Regions from separate parts of the Homo sapiens genome. Here all the other regions are linked to region 4. The links come from fine-mapping of genetic effects on gene expression. A gene starts in region 4. Each other region holds a variant in brackets. All regions are shown on one strand. Distances are from middle to middle.

What was found. PIP is the estimated chance that this variant, and not a neighbour inherited with it, causes the effect.
Region 1: its variant is fine-mapped to the expression of ENTPD4 in tibial nerve (GTEx, PIP 0.97).
Region 2: its variant is fine-mapped to the expression of ENTPD4 in whole blood (TOPMed, PIP above 0.99).
Region 3: its variant is fine-mapped to the expression of ENTPD4 in whole blood (INTERVAL, PIP above 0.99).

What each region holds. Positions count from the first base shown.
Region 1 is chr8:23,340,712-23,346,126 of GRCh38, reverse strand. LOXL2 (lysyl oxidase like 2) reads left to right here. Exons shown (of 14, transcript NM_002318.3): 4 at 4,924-5,135. LOXL2-AS1 (LOXL2 antisense RNA 1) reads right to left here. Exons shown (of 3, transcript NR_038323.1): 2 at 4,978-5,101. Among named protein-coding and RNA genes, the nearest start is that of LOXL2-AS1, 7.2 kb to the right of the region's middle. The variant C/T (reference allele first, on the strand shown) is at 2,537.
Region 2 is chr8:23,419,210-23,424,558 of GRCh38, reverse strand. No RefSeq gene overlaps it. Among named protein-coding and RNA genes, the nearest start is that of LOXL2, 18 kb to the right of the region's middle. RefSeq lists an enhancer at 1,837-2,337. The variant C/T (reference allele first, on the strand shown) is at 2,225.
Region 3 is chr8:23,431,444-23,436,858 of GRCh38, reverse strand. ENTPD4 (ectonucleoside triphosphate diphosphohydrolase 4) reads left to right here. Exons shown (of 13, transcript NM_004901.5): 11 at 1,382-1,467; 12 at 2,381-2,542; 13 at 3,705-5,415. The coding sequence ends at 3,933. Among named protein-coding and RNA genes, the nearest start is that of ENTPD4, 23 kb to the left of the region's middle. The variant C/TGC (reference allele first, on the strand shown) is at 2,328.
Region 4 is chr8:23,454,517-23,459,931 of GRCh38, reverse strand. ENTPD4 (ectonucleoside triphosphate diphosphohydrolase 4) reads left to right here and starts at 2,285. Exons shown (of 13, transcript NM_004901.5): 1 at 2,285-2,375. ENTPD4-DT (ENTPD4 divergent transcript) reads right to left here and starts at 2,161. Exons shown (of 5, transcript NR_186533.1): 1 at 1,943-2,161; 2 at 578-718. RefSeq lists a silencer at 2,072-2,751 and an enhancer at 4,617-5,118.

The DNA.
Region 1 (5,415 bases), 110 kb after region 4:
TTTTATTTTAATTTTATTTTATTTTATTTTATTTTATTTTATTATTTTATTTTATTTTTGAGACGGAGTCTCGCTCTGTCGCCCAGGCTAGAGTGCAGTAGTGTGGTCTGAGCTCACTGCAACCTCCGCCTCCCAGGTTCACACCATTATCCTGCCTCAGCCTCCCGAGTAGCTGGGACTACAGGCGCCCGCCACCATGCCTGGCTAATTTTTTGTATTTTTAGTAGAGACAGGGTTTCACCGTGTTAGCCAGGATGGTCCCAATCTCCTGACCTCGTGATCCGCCTGCCTCGGCCTCCCAAAGTGCTGGGATTACAGGCGTGAGCCACTGAGCCCGGCTGGGGCTGAATTTTAAACTAGCAAGTCTAGACTGCCTTTCATTTAAAAAAGAAAAAAAAGTGTGTGTATATTTTAATATTTCACACTTTCTTTTCACTTTTGGGGCTGAACTCCTGGGGCAAAATGTATCCTAACACTTGTGGTTATGGAAGGGATTCCACAGCAGTGAAGTAAAGAGAGAGGTTATGTGTGTGGGCGTGTTTTCTAAGAGGTCTAACTCAGTCTCCATGAGCTGGTTAGCTAGTGTGAGCACCGAATGTGTGCCCCAGAGGGCTTCCCTGCCTCCTCCCGCTGGCCTGAAGACAAGAATGCTGGGAGCCCAGCTCTCCCCTCACGTACACAATCCAGTCTGACTCACTGCCCCTCGACATGGGGTGCTGGGCTTCCAATGTGCACAGCACCAGCACCCTTCAGCTGGTTGAAGGGGACACCCAGAATTCTGAGCTCCAGGCCCTGCCCTGGGTGAGTCACCCTCAGTACCAGGCAATGTATTGGACACAGGCATGAGATGAGGACTGCTCAGAGACCAGTGGTCATTATGAGCCTGGAGCACGGGTTTGGGGGTCAGAACTCAATTTGCATACTTGTTTACCTACTTACTGGCTGTGTGAACTTGGATAACTTCCAAAAGCTTGCCAAGATTTATCATGTTTTTACCTCTAAACAGGTGGACCATGAGCCATCTTGAAAGCTGCCATGGGGATTGAATAATGGAGTGGATGTAAAGTTTTCTGTATGGAACCTAGCCTGCAATTAATTGGTGTTTGATAAATGATGCCCATAGCTGTCATTATTCAAAGCTGACACAGGGCGCTGTGGTTGGGGTGTAAGGAGGAAGCCCAGCAAGGCCCAAGGAGGGCAGAGACTGCATTTTGTTAAATGAATGCATACGGTAGATTTGAGCCTTAAAGACTGGAAAGGCTTTGGTTCTTTGGAGGGAGAAGAAGAGAAGACGGTCCAGTTTGAAGGAATGAGTGCGAATGGTGTCCTGACTGTTTTCCTAAGGCCTTGCAAGGAACACGATCCTTTCAGAATTTCCTCCACCACAAGACACATAAACAGATGCACACTTTATACATACAGAGACCCATGTGACATAGACACATACAGGGAGAGTGCACAGAGATCCACATGACACACCGGCACACACACACAACCCTGTCATGCATACATCATCATGCACACAGACACACAATCCCAGAGACACACAATCCCAGAGACACACACACAGAGACATATACAGGGGCTCATATGACACATGGACATGCAGACACTCAGAAACACACCATCATGCATATACCCCCGTGCACACACAGAGACACAGAGATACACACCACACACAGACCATCAAGCACACACCACCATGCACACACACAGACACAGAGATACACACCACACACACACAGACCATCAAGCACACACCACCATGCACATACACAGAGATGCATAAACACGTATGCAGTGAGTCGGTGGAAGAATGAGGATAATGACCCCCGGTGCTAGCCCTTTCTCTTCTCCAGGCTGCATTGCCTTCATCGTGGAGCCCCCGGGGCTCTCCCCACCAGCCCTATTCAGCGGAGGAAACTGTCCCGCATCATCGCAGGAACGAGAGCAAGCTCCCTTGGCGTTTGGGTTGGTGTGTGCTGGCCTCAGGCCCGCGTAGCTCTTTCCAGCGGGGTCTGCTGAGCTCCTCCAGCCAGGCCTTCTTCCTCCTCCTGTGGTGGCCAGGTGCTGGGGGTCACACCTTCCCTGCAGCGAGCCTGCACTGCTGCCCAACGCAGGGGAAAGGATCTGTGAACTGAAGGTCAGCCCGGGCCGCCTGCCCTGTGAAGTGCAGTCTTGATGCTAGGCAGTAACTTTCCTTCTGGGCATGACAGTTACACACTGGAATTCCAGCCCAGCCTCCCGAGGTGGGAAGAGACAGAAGAGGGCCGGCTTGTGGGCTGGGTTTAGACCTCAGGCCCTTTCTTGGCTCACCCCTGTCCACGTGTCTTGGTGGCACGGGTCCTGCGGCCTGAATGAGGGCTGTAAAGGATCCAGGATCCAGGCTGGAAGGCATAATCCTGCCCCTGGCAGCATTCCTTCTGCTGTGGTGGAAAGGAAACGGAGCCAAGTGCCATCACTCCAGGCCCACATACTTTCCACCGCCTTGCAGGACCTGAGAGTAGGGCCTGGCTGTGGACCCTGAAGCCCATGG[C/T]GAGGAGACGTGAATCCCTGGGCACCCAAAGAATGGTTCTGTTCAAACTCGTGGTTCATTTGCATCTCAGTTGGACAGGGCTGGGGCAGTCGGGGTGCTGGGTTCCTCCTGCCTTCCAGCCCGGCTTGGACCAGCCCCACCTCCCAGTCCCTGGCCCGCCCACAGTGTGTGTGTCTTCCACTGCACCTCGGGGTGGCCCTAGGGAGGGAACTGGAGTCAGCTGGTATTCTCATCTGTAAGGTGGGGATGGCAGTAGCTATCAACCACCTCATTACAGCGTGCGAGGGTTAAGTAGGAGAATGCAAGGAAGACACTTGACATAGGGCTGGGTACCTGGTGCATGCTTTGCGGTAGCTGTTGCTATTATATACTGCAATTCATGGTGTTTGTGGATCCATGTGAAGCTGGGGACAGTGAGGGGGCTGGAGGCATAAGTGGAATCAGTCCTGAATGGCCGAGAGCATCTTGCTCAATATTAGGGTATTACATAGACAAAGAGGAGCTAGTCAAGGGACAAGGTTAGATCTGTGTTTTAGAAAGAGCCAGCTGCAGTGCCTCATACCTGTAATTCCAGCACTTTGGGAGGCTGAGGTGGGAGGATGCCTTGAGGCCAGGAGTTCGAAACCAGCTTAGGCAACATAGTGAGACCTCGTCTCTGAAATATATTTTAAAATTAGCTGGGCGTGGTGATGTACACCTCTACTTCCAACTACTTGGGAGACTGAAACAGGAGGATCGGTTGAGCCCAGGATATGGAGACTGCAGTGAGCCCTGATCACACCACTGCACTCCAGCCTGGGCAACAGAGTGAGACCCTGCCTCAAAAAAGAATAAAAATTAATTAATTAAAAGAAAAAAAAGGCCGGGCACGGTGGCTCATGCCTGTAATCCCAGCACTTTGTGAGGCCAAGGCGGGCTGATCATGAGGTCAGGAAATCGAGACCATCCTGGCTAACATGGTGAAACCCTGTCTCTACTAAAAATACAAACAATTGGCCGGGTGTGGTGGCGTGCGCCTGTAGTCCCAGCTACTTGGGAGGCTGAGGCAGGAGAATGGCGTGAACCCGGGAGGCGGAGCTTGCAGTGAGCCGAGATCGCGCCACTGTACTCCAGCCTGGGCGACAGAGCGAGACTCCGTCTCAAAAAAAAAAAAAAAAGAAAAAGAAAAAAGAGGCTCTTTGGTGGCTGGCCCTGTGGCAGACAGACGGAGGCAGGAACTCAGTCAGGGACTGTCGCAAGAGCTGGTGATGGCTGGCCATGAGTGATTTAGGGGGGAGCTTCCATAGAGTTTGGAGCCTGTTATGGCATGTCTTGGAAAGGCATTAAAAAGTGCCACTGTAACTCCAGGGAACCTCTTCTCCTCTCATTCAGCTTGGCCTCTTGAGGCCCCCTCTCCTGCCCGATCCCTGGGACTCAGGTCTAGGTGGTACAGGGATATTTCAGCTCCACGTCGAGGGAGGGGGAACACCCACGTGGCAGGGAGGCAGGCGCCTTCCTCTCGCCCATGCCCCTCCAGCCCTCCTCCACTTCCTCCCAAAGGGCCCTGCCAATGAATCTTTCCAACCCTGACCCCAGCCTCTGTCCTTTACTCCACAGATAGATGGGTGGGGTGGGTGTGGGAAGGGAACCCTCTAAGGGGCTCAAAGTGTCTCCTTTCCTTGCTGTGTCTCCTTTCCTTGCTGCAGCCAAATAGTTGTCCCCAACCCTACCTCCCTGATCCCTGCCAGGCAGGTGTGAGTCTCTGCACACAGCACGCTCAACACCAGGAATATCTGCTTCGTTTCTCTCTAAGCCCTGCTTCTTCTCTCAGGCCTCTCTAAGGATTTTTGAAGAGAGGAATGCCCACCCCTGGGGTATGAGGTAGTCTGCAGGGTGGCACCACCAGCTTCAGGACATCTGGGGGTCCTCTATCTGAAACTCAAGTTTTACTGAAAGATGAATCAGGGAGACACACACAGACACACTCACAGGCACATACACACATACTTTGGAGTGAAATGCAAAATCCGCATTCAAAGAACACTTTCTCTCCTGTGCATTTATTTCGAGGCCTGTGCAGGAGGAGGCTGCTGCCCTTTGCTCTCCAAGATCTTAGGTTCGGATGTAGGAGAAGCCCATGGGGTCTCTGAGTCTTTTCTGACTGTTCCAGGTCACCCCACTCCCTGTTGGGTCCTTTCAGCCTCACTATCTCCCATGCATAGCGCTTTCTAACTGCAGCTTGGGCCGTGTGCCCCTCGGGGTTGCCCAGAGCTCACTGCAGGGCCTGAGGGCACAGGCAGGCCCGCGGCAGGCCTGGCCCATAGTCGCTAAAGAAGTACTGGTTGCCTGGTGTCTCTGCAGCCAGGCCAGTAGGGTAACCCTCTCCTTCCACGCCTCTTTCTTCCCAGAACCTGAATATCCAGGTGGAGGACATTCGGATTCGAGCCATCCTCTCAACCTACCGCAAGCGCACCCCAGTGATGGAGGGCTACGTGGAGGTGAAGGAGGGCAAGACCTGGAAGCAGATCTGTGACAAGCACTGGACGGCCAAGAATTCCCGCGTGGTCTGCGGCATGTTTGGCTTCCCTGGGGAGAGGACATACAATACCAAAGTGTACAAGTAAGAGGACTGCACCAAAGGGGTGGCTTTGAGGGTATCCGCCCTGCCTAAAAGAGTTAAAAGTGTCCGCCCTGGTGGTGGCCTTTCCTTGGCCAGGCATGGCCAGGCAAGCTGGTGTCCCTGCAGGCAGCCTGCACAGAGCCCCTGGGCCGGGCCAGGCGCCAAGTTCAAGGGTGCCCCGTGGCATCCTTACCCTTAAGGAACTCACACATCTACAGGAGATAGACCCTAATCCCTAGAGTAGCTTGTGGGAAGGCGTATTGCAGAAGTGAGATGCAAG
Region 2 (5,349 bases), 35 kb after region 4:
CACACCTCTCTGACCGCAGTCCTCATTTCTCCGAGACTCCGCTCCAGCCACCCTGGCCTCAGGGCCCTCTCAGGACTTTCCATCCCCCTCACCCTGCTTCACTTTCCCCCATGATGCTTATGACCTTAGATCTAGTACACTCTGTTTTCATTACGTTCTATGTACGACTCTCCCTATTACCCTACTAGAACATGAGCCAGGGGGCAGGGGGCTTTTGTCTGTGTGTTTTCATGTTGTATCCCCAGGCACAGGATCTGATAGGCGGTAGACATTCAATAAATATCTGTGGAATGAATGAACAAGGCAGGATCCTTAAAGCGAGGGGGAATGACCAGGCTGAGAACTGAGAGAGCATGCTAAACTCCACAGTCTGGCCCCAGGGATGGGGGCAGGAAAGATGGCACCACCTCCTTGCTTTATTAGAGGGAAAGAAGGTGCTTCTTGTGCAGAACCGTCATCATAACAGAAAGATAGCTTATTACACGCCAGGCACTGTTCTAGCTCTTTGTTAGCTTACATAATCCCTGTATTAGTTCGTTTTCACACTGCTATAAAGAACTTCCCAAGACGGGGTAATTGATAAAGGAAAGAGGTTTAATTGACTCACAGATCAGCATGGCTGGGGAGGCGTCAGGAAACTTACAATCACGGCGGAAGGTGAAGAGGGGGAACCAAGACACCTTGGCAGGTGGCAGGAGAGAGAATTAATGCAGAAGGAACTACCAAACACTTATAAAACCATCAGATCTCCTGAGAACACTATCACGAGAACAGCACAGGGGAAACCACTCTCATGATTCAATTACCCCCACCTGGTCTCCCCCTTGACATGTGGGGATTGTGGGGATTATAATTCAAGATGAGATTTGGGTGGGGACACAAAGCCTAACCATGTCAGTCCCCAAAATGACACCATGAGGAGGTGCTTTGATTACCGTCACTTTACAGGTGGAGAAACAGATGTGGAAAAGGCACACAACTTGCCCAAGGTACCGAACTAGCCAGTGGTGGGGCTGGGATTTGAACGCAGGCAGCCTGGCTCCATTCTGTACTCTAGAGCTGCACTGTCCAGTATGACGGCCACTAGCCACATGAAACAGGCCAATCTAAACTGAGATGAGCTGTAAGTATAAAATATACACCAGATTTCAGGCCGGGCACAGTGGCTCATGCCTGTAATCCCAGCACTTTGGGAGGCCAAGGCGGGCGGATCACGAGGTCAGGAGATTGAGACCATCCTGGCAAATATGGTGAAACCCCGTCTGTACTAAAAATACAAAAATTAGCCAGGCATGGTGGTGGGCGCCTGTAGTCCCAGCTACTCGGGAGGCTGAGGCAGGAGAATCGCTTGAACCCGGGAGGCAGAGGTTGCAGTAAGCTGAGATCTCCCCACTGCACTGCAGCCTGGCAACAGAGTGAGACTCTGTCTCAAAAAAATATATATCTATATCTGTCTGTCTATATATAGATATAGACACACCAGATTTCAAAGACTTCATGTAAAAAAAATATGAAATATCTCAGTTTCTTTACATTGGGTACATGAGACATGACAATATTTTAGGTATATTGAGTTAAATAAAATATTATTGGATTAACATCACCTGTTTCCTTCTACCTTTTTAATGTGTACACTAGACAACTCTAAATTGCCTGTGTGGCTCACAGTATATTTCCGTCAGACGGAGCTGCTCTCGGTACTTGCTTCTCAAAGTGTGGTCCTTGAATCAGCAGCATCAACATCACTGAAGCCTGACGGAAGTGCTGGATCTCAGGCTTGGTCTCAGACCTCTTGAATCAAATTCTTCATTTTGCCAGCCTTCCAGGTCACTCATAATGCATGCTCACATTTGAAAAATGCCGCTTCAGACCAGGCAGCAATTTTTTTCTCTAAAGGGCCAGATAATAAACATTTTAACTTTGCAGGCCACATGACTTCTGTCCAAAACTCACCTCACTGCTTCTGTAGTATGAAATGAGCCAGAATATGCACGTGAATACGGATTCCACTGTAACCTGCACGGACCTAGGGGGACTGAACAAAGCGGGGCAAACACGGGAATAAAAGACAAGAGACAAAAGAGTATATTTTGAAGAAGGGGTCAGGGGGTACCTTGCCCCTAGTGGACAAGGGCCCTGAGCTTTATACAGCCCTCCTTATTTATTAGGCAAAAGAGATAGTGAGAAGCGGGGTGGAAGAAGGGGTCAGCTGCTCAGTCTAGAG[C/T]AGGCTTGCAAGACTGCATTCCTCGAACAACAGGCTAAATGTTGCAGTAGATAACCTCAGCGCCAGGGAGTGATTGCCTCCAGCAAACCTTCTGTCGGCAGGAGCAGTCGTCAGTTTTCTCACATCCTGCATTCATGATAAACAGTTTGCTGTTGGATCATATAGCCTCCAGTGGAATGCTGCGTTGGTCACATCCCATGGGCCTTCGGCTCCCTGCATATCCCCCTTTCTGTTTATGAATTAATTGAAAAAATGTAAGGCCAGGCTGGGCAGCTCTCATTCTCCGATTGGCAGTCCATCCGATTTTACAGACTATAAACAGAAGACAGAGACGAAACAACATTATTCCAAGAACTACATATAAGATGTTAATGTGGTGCCTTAGATAGGTCCAAGGGTTGAGGCTCTCCAGGCCTTGCTGGAATTTGGTCCCGTCTTCTAAAGAAGGCTGAAATTCTTGAGTTTGCCTATTTAAATCAAGAATTTTGTTTTGTAATTCACCAATATCAAAGGTGATGTTGGATGTGAACGCTCCCTGCAAATGGGCTTTCACAAGGTCCCACGGATACTCACTTTGGTTGTATTCTAAGTTGGTTACACAAATATGAGTGTGATTAAAATGACAGCGCAATTACTGCTGCAACTGCAAGCTTTGTACTTGTGCCCCTAACCACAGAACCGTGGATTTCAGCATTGCCACTTCAGTTTGTAGCTCAGTGTTAATTTTATTCTGAAGTCGCCACGCTTGGTCAGCTGTGCGCGTCCAGTTCTCCACGTACTGAGCTATTTGAATAGAATTATGCAAAGCTACAGAAGATATCACAACAGAAGTTACTAGCATGACCAAGTAAACAGTAGCAAAAATTATCATGCCTAAGGCTCTACGGGCACGATGAGTCAGCTGAGTTAGAAGTTTCACAAAATGCAAAGCAGGTGTGGCAGCCCAAGGCTCAGACAGATTAACAGGAATCCCTAGCCCAGGGATACCACCTAAAATCATCACAGTAGAGATATTATGTGTTTGCAATGTGCTATGATTAGTGCAGTGATATAACTGGCAAGATTTACAGGTCAATTGGGTATTGTTTACCTGGAGCTGGTCCTTCTTAGCTGCCAAAAAGACATAAGGATTAAAAACACAAACTGTAAATTGAGTGATGATATTCTTTACAAATGTAACCTTAGAACTGTGTTGTGACTCCGGTCGGCCTTCTCTCCGTCTTTGCATTCAGGCTCAGCTGACTCATGGCTCATACCGGGACCGGGTCCATGGTTGGCCACCCTGGGTTCCTCCAGTCTCCCATTCCATGGTCGCACGCACCTTGAGGGCACCCACACAGTTCATCCATCTCCTGCAAAAACACAAGTATACCCTCTTCCCCACATTAGTAAATCCACTGGACCTTTCCATTGGCCTTCTTCCGGGGATTTCCGTAACACTTTCGGATAAACTTTCCTCTTTTCCTCTAACACTTGCCAATGTCTTTCTGCTGGAGTCTTTACCTTCCATACCAGGAGTCAGAAAATTTAAAGTAAGGCTAAATGTAGTTTTGATTGAGGTGGTAGTTGGTCTCCTATACCCCCTTTTTGTTTTTTCAATATGCGTTGTAATGTTTGATGTGCCTGCTCTATAATGCCTTGTCCTCTAGGATTATAAGGAATTCCTGTTTTATGGGTTATAGCCCAAAGCTGTAAGAAATTTTGAAAAGCATGACTAGTATAAGTGGGTCCATTGTCAGTTTTTAATTGTTTAGGTATCCCCATGTGAGCAAATGATGACAGACAATGTGGCCATACATGACCAGCTGTCTCACCTGTTTGGCATGTAGCATGCAGCATATGAGAATAAGTGTCTATAGTCACATGAACGTAGCTAAGCTTACCAAAGGTTGCTATGTGTGCAACATCCATTTGCCAAATTTCATTTGGAGCCAAACTTCGTGGGTTACAGCCTTCTACAGGTATAGTTCCAGGGACATGCTGGCAAGTAGGACAGGCTTGTATTATAGCCCTAGCTTGGCTATGAGATAAATGGAACATGCGAGTAAGGGTGGAAGTATTTTGGTGCAGAAGTGCATGAGATGCTTGAGCTTGCCGAAACACAGAACCAATCAGTTTGTCTGCTTTCTCATTACCTAGAGATAGGGGTCCAGGAAGTTGTGTGTGAGAGCAAATATGAGAAATATGAAAAGGAGCTGCATGAGAACGAATAACTTGTTGAAGTCTTAAAAATAAATTAAGCGGCTGGGCATGGTGGCTCACACCTGTAATCCCAGCACTTTGGGAGGCCGAGGCAGGTGGATCATGAGGTCAGGAGATCGAGACCATCCTGGCTAACATGGTGAAACCCCTTCTGTACTAAAAATACAAAAAATTAGCCGGGCGTGGTGGCGGGCGCCTGTAGTCCCAGCTACTCGGGAGGTTGAGGCAGAAGAATTGCGTGAACCCGGGAGGCGGAGCTTGCAGTGAGCTGAGATTGTGCCACTGCACTATATCCTAGGCAACAGAGCAAAACTCCATCTCAAAAATAAATTAATTAATTAACTAATTAAGCAGTTCTGGGTCTAGTGTACTTTTAATTGTGGCAGTTTCTATGCGACTGGCTACATTTACAACATAAGCTGAATCACAGACAAAGTTAATAGGATCTGAGGCTGTGAGCTGTAAAACCTGAATGACTGCAATTAGCTGTAAGCGTTAAGCTGAAACACCAGAGGTATCTAGCTTCTCCTGTGTTAGGGGCACAACTGTGAGAGCATAAGTGTCTGCTATTGAGGCCACCCAGTTTGTGGTGCTTTGTCATGAGGGCCCTAGGAGGCGAATATACTTACCAAGAGCAGGGGACACTTGAGCTCAATAGGAAAGGCTGTGGAGCTTTCAGAGGGGACCGTACAGGAAAACGCGGTGGGCAGAATTAACAGCACGAAGGCAGGGCCTACAATGTGGAAAAGCACAGACACAGTTGTGCAGGCTGGAAGTCAAGTTGAGGAGTCCGCAGGGCGACGCTCCCTCTGAGACCTTGCAGAATCCTTCCTTGCCCCTTCCTGGTTTCTGGCGGTGACCAGCGATCCTCAATGGTCCTTGGCCTGCAGCTGTGTCACTTTTATCTCTGCCTCGGTCTTCAC
Region 3 (5,415 bases), 23 kb after region 4:
TTCACATTGACAGGGAAAGACGGAGTATAGAAGGCTGCACTGCAGCATGTTGGGATCCTGTTCCCTTTGCTTGGAGGGAGGTTGAATAGTCACAGCAGAAGTAAAAAATGTACTGTACGCTGACTTCTGCACCACTCCATTAGCTACCCTGGTCATCAGTTAGCTCCAAATTACAGTCTTTTATGTCATTTTTGTGCTTTGCTGCATGTGACAATTCTCCTACTAGCCTTCCCCCTCCCTGACCTGCCAGGATACTCCTGTTCTTGTGTTCTCTCTGCCTTCCTGACACCCCTTAAACTTAGGTGATGCCAGACTTCCACACTTGGCCCCTGATCTTCAGGTTCTTGGATGGTCTCATCCATATTCAGGGTTTGCTGCTGCCTCTCAAGAAGAGGCTCCAATCCTGACCCCTGCCCGGTTGCCTGCTAGATTCCACAACTCCAGACAAACCCACCATCCTCTCTCCATTCTGTTCCTGTTCTTCTCTCGGTTAATGGCATCGCCAACCATCCAGTCCCCTTCCCTGCAGCCTAGGAGTCATGGACTTCTCCCTCTAACCATTTCATCTCTCCCTATACACCCCAGTGTAATCAGTCACAAGTGTGGTATTTTATCTTCCAAGTATTTCTCAAACCCATCTCGAAGCGCAGAGCACTGTATGCTGTAATCATGTCAGACAGCTGGCTTCCCTCACGCTCTCCGCGACTTCTCTGTGTCCATGTCCATGTTCCTGAAGTGCCTATGCCGAGCCCGTTCCCCAGGCCAAGTGCTTTTTCCTTGTGCTCCCTGTCACACACCCAGGCCCATCTCCCACCTCTCAGCAGTGTCTTCATCCTTTAAATAGAGGTCGGGATGGTAGCCACCTCGAGGAGTTAAGTATTACATTGAGAAGACACACTTACACAATGCTCAATAAAAGTTATTATAACAAATAACTTCAAGAAAAGTGGGATCTCTTTCCCTTCTGTTAAAGACAAAAACCTTTTGCAGTTATTATCCCAGTAGCTTGTACTGTGTCCTCCACAGATGTAGGACTTAGTTTGAAGTAGCTAAAATACTGCTTCACTTTTCCAAAAATGTATGCCCGTACCATGCAGTCATGGAGGGAGAAACTAAACAGTTTTGGAGAGGTTGGTTGTGGACAGCAAAGCTCTCTTTAACAATACCCTGGACAGAATTTTAAGGCAAGGCATTGTGTTTGCGAATCAGTAAGTATTCCCTGAGTGTTTGTGTGTCTTGCCATTTGTTGTATAAGTTAAGCTTGTGTGTTTCCTAATGGGAAGGATATGCTTGTTACAAATATAAATTTGGTAAACCATTTTTAAAGTGAGAATTTTAATAAGCCTTTACTAGTGATCTATTTTGGTGAATTTGTTTTCAGGATTATTGTGCAACAAAGTGGTCCATTTTGCGGGAACGCTTTGACCGAGGACTGTACGCCTCTCATGCTGACCTCCACAGGCTTAAGTAAGTACTAGAAGGTCAAGCCCAGGGCACTCTTAAGAACCATAATGCAGTGTTGGCCCCACTGGCTTGCCACACCCTGGCCTCAGTCCAGCTTCTTCTCACTCACTGTTCTTCCCATCTACCCTGGGCCCCTTTCAAACGGGACAAATACTTGTGCCCAGACATATTCCGTATCTTTTTTGTTTTGGTCACTTTTACTGTCTCTTACCCCTGAAATTCCCCTGTTCATACCTTTGCTTGTTCAAGTCCTGCCCAGACATCAGAGTCCAGCCAGAGGCTGTCCCTTTCCAGTCTTCCTCTGTCCCCTCAATCAGACTTCATCCCTTTCTCTGAGTCTCAAGAATTCATCCTACCTCGCCAATGCATTTATCATGTTCTGCTTTTTCTGTTGCTTTTTAAAAATCCCCTTTCATTGTAAGTCACTTAAGTGCAGACACTGTATCTTACTAATTATTGTATCTTATTACTTGCTTAGCACAGTGCTTGGCAAAAAATAAACCTCTAATAAATATTTAGAGTCATAGAATATCAGAGCTGAAGAGAACCTTCCTACCATCTCATTTTATAATAAACTGAGGTACAAAGAGGTTGGAACCTGTTCAGTATTCATTCAAGGAGTACATGGTGAAATGCCAGCTGGAAAAGAAACCTATCTCAGGGATATATGACATTATGCCGAGACCGGGTTCATGCACTGATTGATTTGACAGGTGAACTGCTCCATGTTGTGGGACCAGGGATGTGAAGCAAGTACATCAACCTTGAAACGCGCGCAGTTGGTTTGGGAGAGCCGGCCTGAGGAAGCCCCTGCCCCAAGGCTGCCCACAGAGGGAAGGATTGTGTGTGTGTGTGTGTGTGTG[C/TGC]CATCTTGACAGAGTGAGTCAGTCTGACTTGCCTTTGTGCTTGCCGTTTGTAGGTATCAGTGCTTCAAATCGGCCTGGATGTTTGAGGTGTTTCATAGGGGCTTTTCGTTTCCTGTCAACTATAAAAGCTTAAAGACTGCCTTGCAAGTTTACGACAAGGAGGTTCAGTGGACCCTTGGAGCCATCCTCTACAGGACCCGCTTTCTACCATTAAGGTAGGGCTGTGAATTTGGGAACGAGAATCAAAAAGATGCTTTTCTGCAGTTACAGCACCTCATGGCAGCTGTGGTCTGTGGCTGTTTGGGGCATTGCTGTTAGAGCCGGCCACGGCAGAATTGTAGGGACAGTGACGTTTGCTTTTGGTCTTGCCCCCTCCCCACAAGTGCTTCCTCCCTTCTCACCCTACCATCCCGTAATACACAGCACTCCTGTCCTACTGCCCTGTGTTTGGTTATTCTCAACTGTCTGTTCCCCAGCCCCGGCAAAAGGGTCAGTTCCGGGGTTCTTAACCTTTATGACTCAGGCCTCTTCTCCAAATACTGTTTAAATGCATGTATAAATACATAGGATTACAGAAGAAACCATCATATTGAAATAATACCAAAATATTACAGAAAACAAGTTTGTGATACTGTAATATGTGTTCTTCTCTATTAACACATTAAATAACAGGATCTGGCAGCAGAATTAGCACTTTCTGTAATTTCAGTGTAGTCAATGAGCGTCAATGATATTTTGAGGCATTGATGATACCATAATGGGACATGAAAGATCTGTGATTTTCGTTAGTAACAAAGTTGCAGGTGCTGCCAACGCTAATGATAGTTTGTTGTCTGCATTCATGGTCAAAGAAATGCTACATCTCAGTCAGCGCTTGGGTAGAACAAAGATGTGCGTTTTTCCCCATTCACGTTTGCAGATCTGCTGTCAGTTGACCTGTGCTAAGAACCTGAGTTACCTGATAGATGAGACATTTGCTCTTCCCCCCACCCCCTCCATTTAATTGAGCATTTCTCAGCAACCCTTTTAACTGGGTTAACTGTAAAAATGGTGAGTCATGGGTGTTACTGATCACAAGCATGCAGTTTGTTTACATGTTGACTTCTTTGTATCAGCGAAACCTTCACGGCTCTTCTAAATTCCTCTGATTTTGGTTGCCCAAATTATAATGACCGACTTCAGAGTATACTTTCACATGTTATCTCACTGATACTTAGAAGCCCCCTGCATTGGGCTGTTCCGTTCTCCATTTCAGAGGTAGGGTTGCAGTTCCTAAAGTGCAGCTCTGGGGCCTGGGTCCCGCCGTCCCCCTGTGCACCCTTTCCACCCCTTTCCTTGCTTACTGTCCTGTTTGTTGTTTGGTGTTCACATGGGCAGAGACATCCAGCAGGAGGCCTTCCGAGCCAGTCACACCCACTGGCGGGGCGTTTCCTTTGTCTACAACCACTACCTGTTCTCTGGCTGCTTCCTGGTGGTGCTGCTGGCCATCCTGCTGTACCTGCTGCGGCTGCGGCGCATCCACAGGCGCACTCCCCGGAGCAGCTCGGCCGCCGCCCTCTGGATGGAGGAGGGCCTTCCCGCCCAGAATGCCCCGGGGACCTTGTGATCCAGCTCACAGCTCCACGAAGACTCAAAAGGAAAAGCCATTTTTGCCTCAGGGTTTCTCCTCTTTATTTTCCTGTGGTTTTGTTTTTTCTTTCCCTTTTTTGTTCCTCCAAACAAAAACAAAATGCAGGCCGAGCGCGGTGGCTCACGCCTGTAATCCCAGCACTTTGGGAGGCCGAGGCGGGCGGATCATGAGGTCAGGAGATCGAGACCATCCTGGCTAACACGGTGAAACCCCGTCTCTACTAAAAATACAAAAAATTAGCTGGGTGTGGTGGCGGGCGCCCGTAGTCCCAGCTACTCAGGAGGCTGAGGCAGGAGAATGGCATGAACCTGGGAGGCAGAGCTTGCAGTGAGCCGAGATCACACCACTGCACTCCAGCCTGGGCGACAGAGTGAGACTCCGTCTCAAAAAAAAAAAATGCATTGTTTATAAGCCCTGCTGTCTAGAAGTATTGCGTTTAGCCATTTTGAGTACAGCATTAAATTGAGGAGTGGGGAAGAGGGAAATTCACTTGATTTTTGCTGCACAGGATATCTGCCAAAAATAAATGAGATTTCTGGGGTTTCTCTAAGGAATGTTAAATTTAAACACATGCACTTTGATACTGGAGGGAGGTGGAAAGATGCATTCTGTCAGTGGAGAGGGGACTGAATAGTGATGCTTTCATAGAACCAAAAAACTTACTGCCTGAAATGATAATCCTCTTTTTTCTCTATCTTGAAAGCTCTAACCTGAAGAGGGTGATTTTTTTTTTTATTTATTGTTCAGGTCTGTTACTGTATATGTTTTCTTTGCAAATTTAAATTTTTTAAACCATTTATATCCAAAACAGAGAAACATGGGCACCAGGAGATAACCATTTATAAAAGTGATAGTGAACTATCGACTACAGCTTTGTGCGAGTGTGTGAAAAATCCCAAGAAACCAGCGTGAGGGGAGGCAATGCTGGTTCTTTAAAAACACACACTTCAGAATTTACTGGTACATTTTATTTAGAAAAATCCTCGTTACTGTTATCTTTTCCTGACCGCAGGTAATTACGCTCCTTATTCCATATTTCAGTGGCATTAGAACACTGTGGTTTTGAAAGAATTGGAAATTCCTAGTTTCACCAGTTTCGGTTTTATTGGAACTAGAGCACATGCCCACTTCTTGCTCAGTATTCCTCAGTGTTTCTGCTTAATCGTGCCTCAGTTTCTTCCAGCTTCCAATTGGTGTTTCCCCCACCCCCCTTAATTAAAAGTCATCTCAGCTTTTAATCGTACTGGGAGACCCCATGCACAGCCTGCCGAGTCCTCTTCCTAACCGCATTGACTGAGGCTGTTGCTGGCAGCACCACTGTAAATCCAGAAGGGAAGAGTCTGCATCCAATACAGGAAATAAATTCACATTTTGAAGGAAAAAATTCGACAATTTAAGCCAAAATCTAAAAAGGACAATTGGATTGGCATATGTGAGATTGGTGTTTTTTCACCTATT
Region 4 (5,415 bases):
ATGTACTAAGTTGAATAGTGACCACCCCCAAAAAATTCATGTCCACCCAGAACCCATGAATGTGACCTTATTTGGAAATAGGATCTTTGCAAATATAATCAAGTTAATATGAGATCATAAGATCACACTGGATGAGGGTGAGCCTTGAATCTAATATGGCTGGTGTCTTTATGAGAAGAAAGAAACTTGGAGACAGAGACACAGACACACAGAGATAATACCATGTGACAACAGGGGCAGAGACCAAAGTGATGCATCTACAAGCTGAGGAAGGCCAAGGATGGCCAGTAGCCACCAGAAGCTAGGAAGAGGCAAAGAAGGATCCTCCTCTAGATCTTTAGAGAGAGCACAGCCCTGCTGACACCTTCATTTCAGGCTTCTACCATCTAGAACTGGAAGACAATAAATTATCTTGCTTTAAGCCACCCAGTTTAGGGCAATTTGTCACTGCAGCTCTAGAATGTAATATGCCAAGTTACACGTTTCCATACTTTCCTATATTTTTCTTTCCTAGCTCTTATCAGACAATTATTACATATAAATTATCAGGAAATATGGATGGTGTGATAATACTTACTAGTCTGGCTTTTCTTCTCTCTCTCTCTGAGATGGAGTCTCACTCTGTTGCTCAGGCTGGAGTCCATTGGCGTGATCTCGGCTCACTGCAACCTCCACCTCCCGGGTTCAAGCAATTCTCCTGTCTCAGCCTCCTGAGTAGCTGGGATTACAGGCACAAAAAAGCCACTATGTCCAGCTAGTGTTTGTATTTTTAATAGAGATGGGGTTTCACCATGTTGGTCAGGCTGGTCTTGAACTCCTAATTTCAGGCAATCCACCTGCCTTGGACTCCCAAAGTGCTGGGATTACAGGCATGAGCCACCATGCCCGGCCTAGTCTGGCATTTTAGTAGAGCCCTCCTTAAGGAAGACTAACATAACCCCAACCAGTGTCTCCAATGGCAAAGATTTTGAAAGGCAGATAATTTCGAAGGAGACTGTCCTTAAAATCACAGTATGTCAGTGGCCAGCTTTAGCTTCTCAATGCTAGCCTTGGGTCACAGGGTTTTCTAGTGTGAAAATTATCCAAACGAGTAATTTCTTATAGCAACAGATTGTCAAAAAAAAGACACTGATGCGCAAGTCATGTGGGAGTCTGAAACATTGGTTCTGCTCTCCTCTGCCTCCAGGGGGTCTTGGCCAAGTCACTCAACCTCTCTGGGTTCCAGGCTCTTAACTGTAAAAGAAGGTGATTGGGGCTACACAGTAGAGTCCCTTTGGCTCTAACCTTCTGAGGCTTCATGGTTTCTTCCGTTAACAGTAGCTGAATCCAGGAAGAGGAGGTGACCCAGGCGGGTGCTGGACCAAGAAGGATTCTGTGTTAAGATGTAGAACTGCCAGTTCTGTCTATGCTTGTTTTACTTGATAAATGGAATGGAGTAGACGTTTCTAGGGCTCTTGTTTTTAAAAATCTTTTAAAGTGGCTGGATTGCTGGTCACTTCCTATCTCTGGGCCACAGTGCATTCACCTGTATACAAGGTGGAAGAAAGGATGGAACCCGGGATTCCCAAGGTCTCTTCCGGCTCTCAAGTGCAAAGTTCTGTGTCTTCAAAGCAGTTTATTGCTAAGCCAGAGAGCTAAGAGAGCTTAGCCTTGTACTAAGTGTAGGTCATGGGGTCAATCTCAGGAACACCCTTCGCTTTATTTCTTCTCATAACCATTGCGTGTGTTGGGGAGGGCTGGGGCAGTCTGCCTCCCCCAACATAGGCACTAACATATGCCATCGACGGGCAAGAATGAAATCCTGGCTCTACCTCTCACGAATCAGGTGGATCTCAAGAGAGACTGAATAAGTGTGAGCCTCCGTTTCCCCATCTGTGAAACAGGGAGAGTTACCGGCAAAGGTGTAAATGTCAAGAGTTGAGCAACAATGCCTAGTCCTTACCAGGTTTTCAAGCGCTATTTTCCATAACCGTTAGGAGCGCTAAGGAAAGATAAACTGCGGTGTCCTAAGTACGCTGAGGCTCGCTGACGACCAGACGAGCACCACGCCACAGTACTGGGTGCCTCCGTGCTCCCACGTCCACATTTCCCGTGCACAGCACACTGGCGTGGCCGCGCGGGTCCACGGAACAGCCCAGCGCTCGGACGCCAATCATCCCGCATCAGGCTCCGCCCCCCAGCGCTCAACGCGCCCCTCGGCGTGCGCGCTCCCGCCGCCAGCGGGCGCGCTCCGGGCGCAGGCGGTGACGTGTTGCCGGCGGGGGCCGGGCGGGGGTGCGGCTCCAGGAAAGGAGCGCGGCCTCCAGGAAGCCGGCTGGCCGTGATGCTGCCCACTGGTGGTCCCCCGCTCCCGGGGTCCCCGGCCGGCCAAGCAGGTGAGGTTGCCTTCCGAGCGTGGGTGAGGGGAGGGCGGGCGGCCGAAGGGGCCGGCGAGTGGGTTGGAGTGCGGGGGCCGGCGGCGCGGCGAGCGGGCCGCGGACGAGCCTCTCTGCCCCAGGCCCCCACAGCCGCCTGCTTAGCCCCGCGGACCGGTTCCCGCCTCCCCTGCCGCGCGGCCACATCCGAGCGCCCCGGGACCAACCCCTGTGAGCCCTGGCGGCCGGCGCGCTCCCCCAGCCCCTGGCAGGGGACACCTGGCGGTCGCGCGCCTCGGGTGACCGCTCGGGATCCCCCCCTCGAATGGGCGGAGCTTGACCGGGCAGCAGGGATGCTGCACCCGGGACCCAGCCGGCCCTGCCTGCCGCTTTAAATGATGACATTCGCTCGTCTTGTCGTTTTCGCTTTGCTTTGCTTTTGCCAGATTTCATGTTAGATTTCTTCTTGGAAAAATGGAGCTTATTGGGCAGTAAAGTGATGATGCACAGCATTGTTTCTGAACTTGAGTAATGCGCGGACCCCTTTTAAAGGAACAATTCTCTCATGGTCTAGAATGTGTCCCAGAACCCTTAGGGTGCTTCAGACCCCAGTTAGATGAACCCTAGTGCAGAGCGTTTTCAGAGAACACTTATCACGAAGGAAACTAAAGAGATCCTTTATGATTCAGGAACTTTCAGGCTAGAAGGTAAACTAGAGGTAATGGAAGAATTCTAAATTAGACACTCAAAGCCCAGGCTAATTTCGCATTGCAGTCTTTGTTGTCTCCTTTTTGTGATGAAAATACCAAATTATCCAGCTTTAGAGAGGCCTAAAAGAGTTATATTATTTGTGTTACCATATATTTGATGTTTTTGTATCAGGTTTGTTAATTCTGTTTGACATAGTAGAATTATAAAATGGAACACTAATTCGTGTAGTTGAATCGTTTATTTCTCTGTTTACCTTAACAGAGGTCTTGTAGTTGTTGCATGTTGAATCTATGGCTTATATTCTTCTACCTCTAATAGGAAATGTGTGACTGAGGCCCTTGAGGATATAGTCTAGGAAGGAGACAAAAATGAACATTTATCTAAGGATTTATATTCTCTACGTATTTACTCAGCATGTTTATTTAAAATAGACTACTCATGAATAAAGAGACGATTCCAATTGTAAGAAAACATCAGGATGTGTAACAGGTTAAATCTTGACAAAGAAACATGTTGACTTGTGCCTTGAAAGAAGTGTAGTCTTGAGAGGAGGACACGGTGGTGGCTCGGAGGAAGTGCTGTTAGTAAATGCCTGAGGCAGGCATGGAGACAGCTTGTGTGGGAGAGAAGAGAGAGACCTGCTGCACTGGAGCTGAGAGATGGTATCTGGGACTGATGAGAGGATAGGTTGGTGAGATAAGGTGGACCAGTTGATGGATAAAAGGTTTCAGGTGCCACACAGGAAACTTGGTGTTGATCCATGGCCTTCCAGAAGGTTCTTAGCTGATCATATTTTGAAGGCCGTGTTTTACAAAGAGTTGCTTGTAAAGTGTGGCGTGCACAGTGAAGGCAGAAGGTGGGTGAGTCGCCAAGAGATCTGTCTTGAGGTAGTGGTGCCTGCTGTGGTCATCTTAGATATGAGGGATATCTGAGGAAGAATCGACTGGCTTGGAGAATGATAGAAGATTGTCAACACCGGATGTGGGAATCAAAGCTGAGAACCAGGTAATCCAGGTCAATGGGGATTGGTGGTACCCGTCTTAGACCTGGAGAATTTGGAGGGTGGTATTAGAGTTTGCATTAGAAGATTTCAACCCTAGAGTTGGACTAGTTGAGCTTGCAGTAACAGGGCTTCAATGAGCTTGGAACGTGGAACTGGAACTTGAGGAAAGTCAGAGTTAATTCAGGAAAAGTGACCAGAAAAAGACTACTTAAAATGGGAACCAGAATTTTGCAAATTAATAGAGGGAGGAAGAGGTTAAGATTTTATATTGAAAAATAAAATTAAAATGTGTAAGATAAATATTGAACATACAGATCATAAATGCAACTACATACATATCTTCTTAAAGAATGAATCAAGTTGTCTTCATGTATCTTTTGTCACTACTGAGTAACGGTGCCACCCGGCAGCCTCCACATCAGCCTCTCACTCTCAGAAAGACAGTTGTTTCTTGCAAAACGCTGCCGGAATGGTTGAGAGCATCTTTAATTTTTCCAGGTTCTCTTGAATCCTTTGATATTCAAATCATTCTTTTCTGAAGTACCCTTCCCTGTGGTACCTTTGCTTATTCAGAAGCTGAGCTCTCCCAGAGGCTGACTTCTCTGTGATTTTGTTTGCCTGTGATTTGAGTTCACTAACATCTGTTTCCTTGCATCTTGTGTTTTTCCACCAGAGGAACCATTTCCCTTTGTGGTTGATTTGCATTGTTTTCGTCGTTATCTGTAGAACTGTCAGTGAGAGACTGACAAAGACATTGACACCTGACTGTAGGCTTTATTCCAATAATGTTCAGCCAAGTAGGGCCCCACTAGCTGAAATCATGAGAATTAATGCATCTCTCTGGTGATAGGTCTAACACAATTTAGGCTTTTTTAAAACATGTCAGTTTTATGTGGTATTACTGAATTTGCCTCCCAGTGCCCTGGTGCGAAGATTCTTAGCTAGAAGGACAATTGGAGTTTACATTTGAAGATCAAATTACCATTTAACTCTTAGGCAATAATCCATTGTACTTTTGTCCTGAGTTAAAATTACAGTGCTTCAGCAGTTATAAGCTGTCCTATTTTCTCTGCTTTTAAACACAAGCTTTGTAACTTAAAATATCTGTTTGTCCTTTTGATCAAAATCATCACATATCTCAAAAAAAAAAAATTCCTGAGACAAACCTCAGATGACACAAAGTTTCCTAAGTGCGCTGTGATCATTCTCTCGGTCACCTTCCTCTTCGAAGTGTGTTCTTTCTCACCCCATCTAGAATTGACCTCCCACCTCTAGGAATCTTTTCCTGCTAAAGCTAGCCTTCTCTGTGCTCTTCTCTGAGCTCTTATAACAAGAATCCCAGTAATT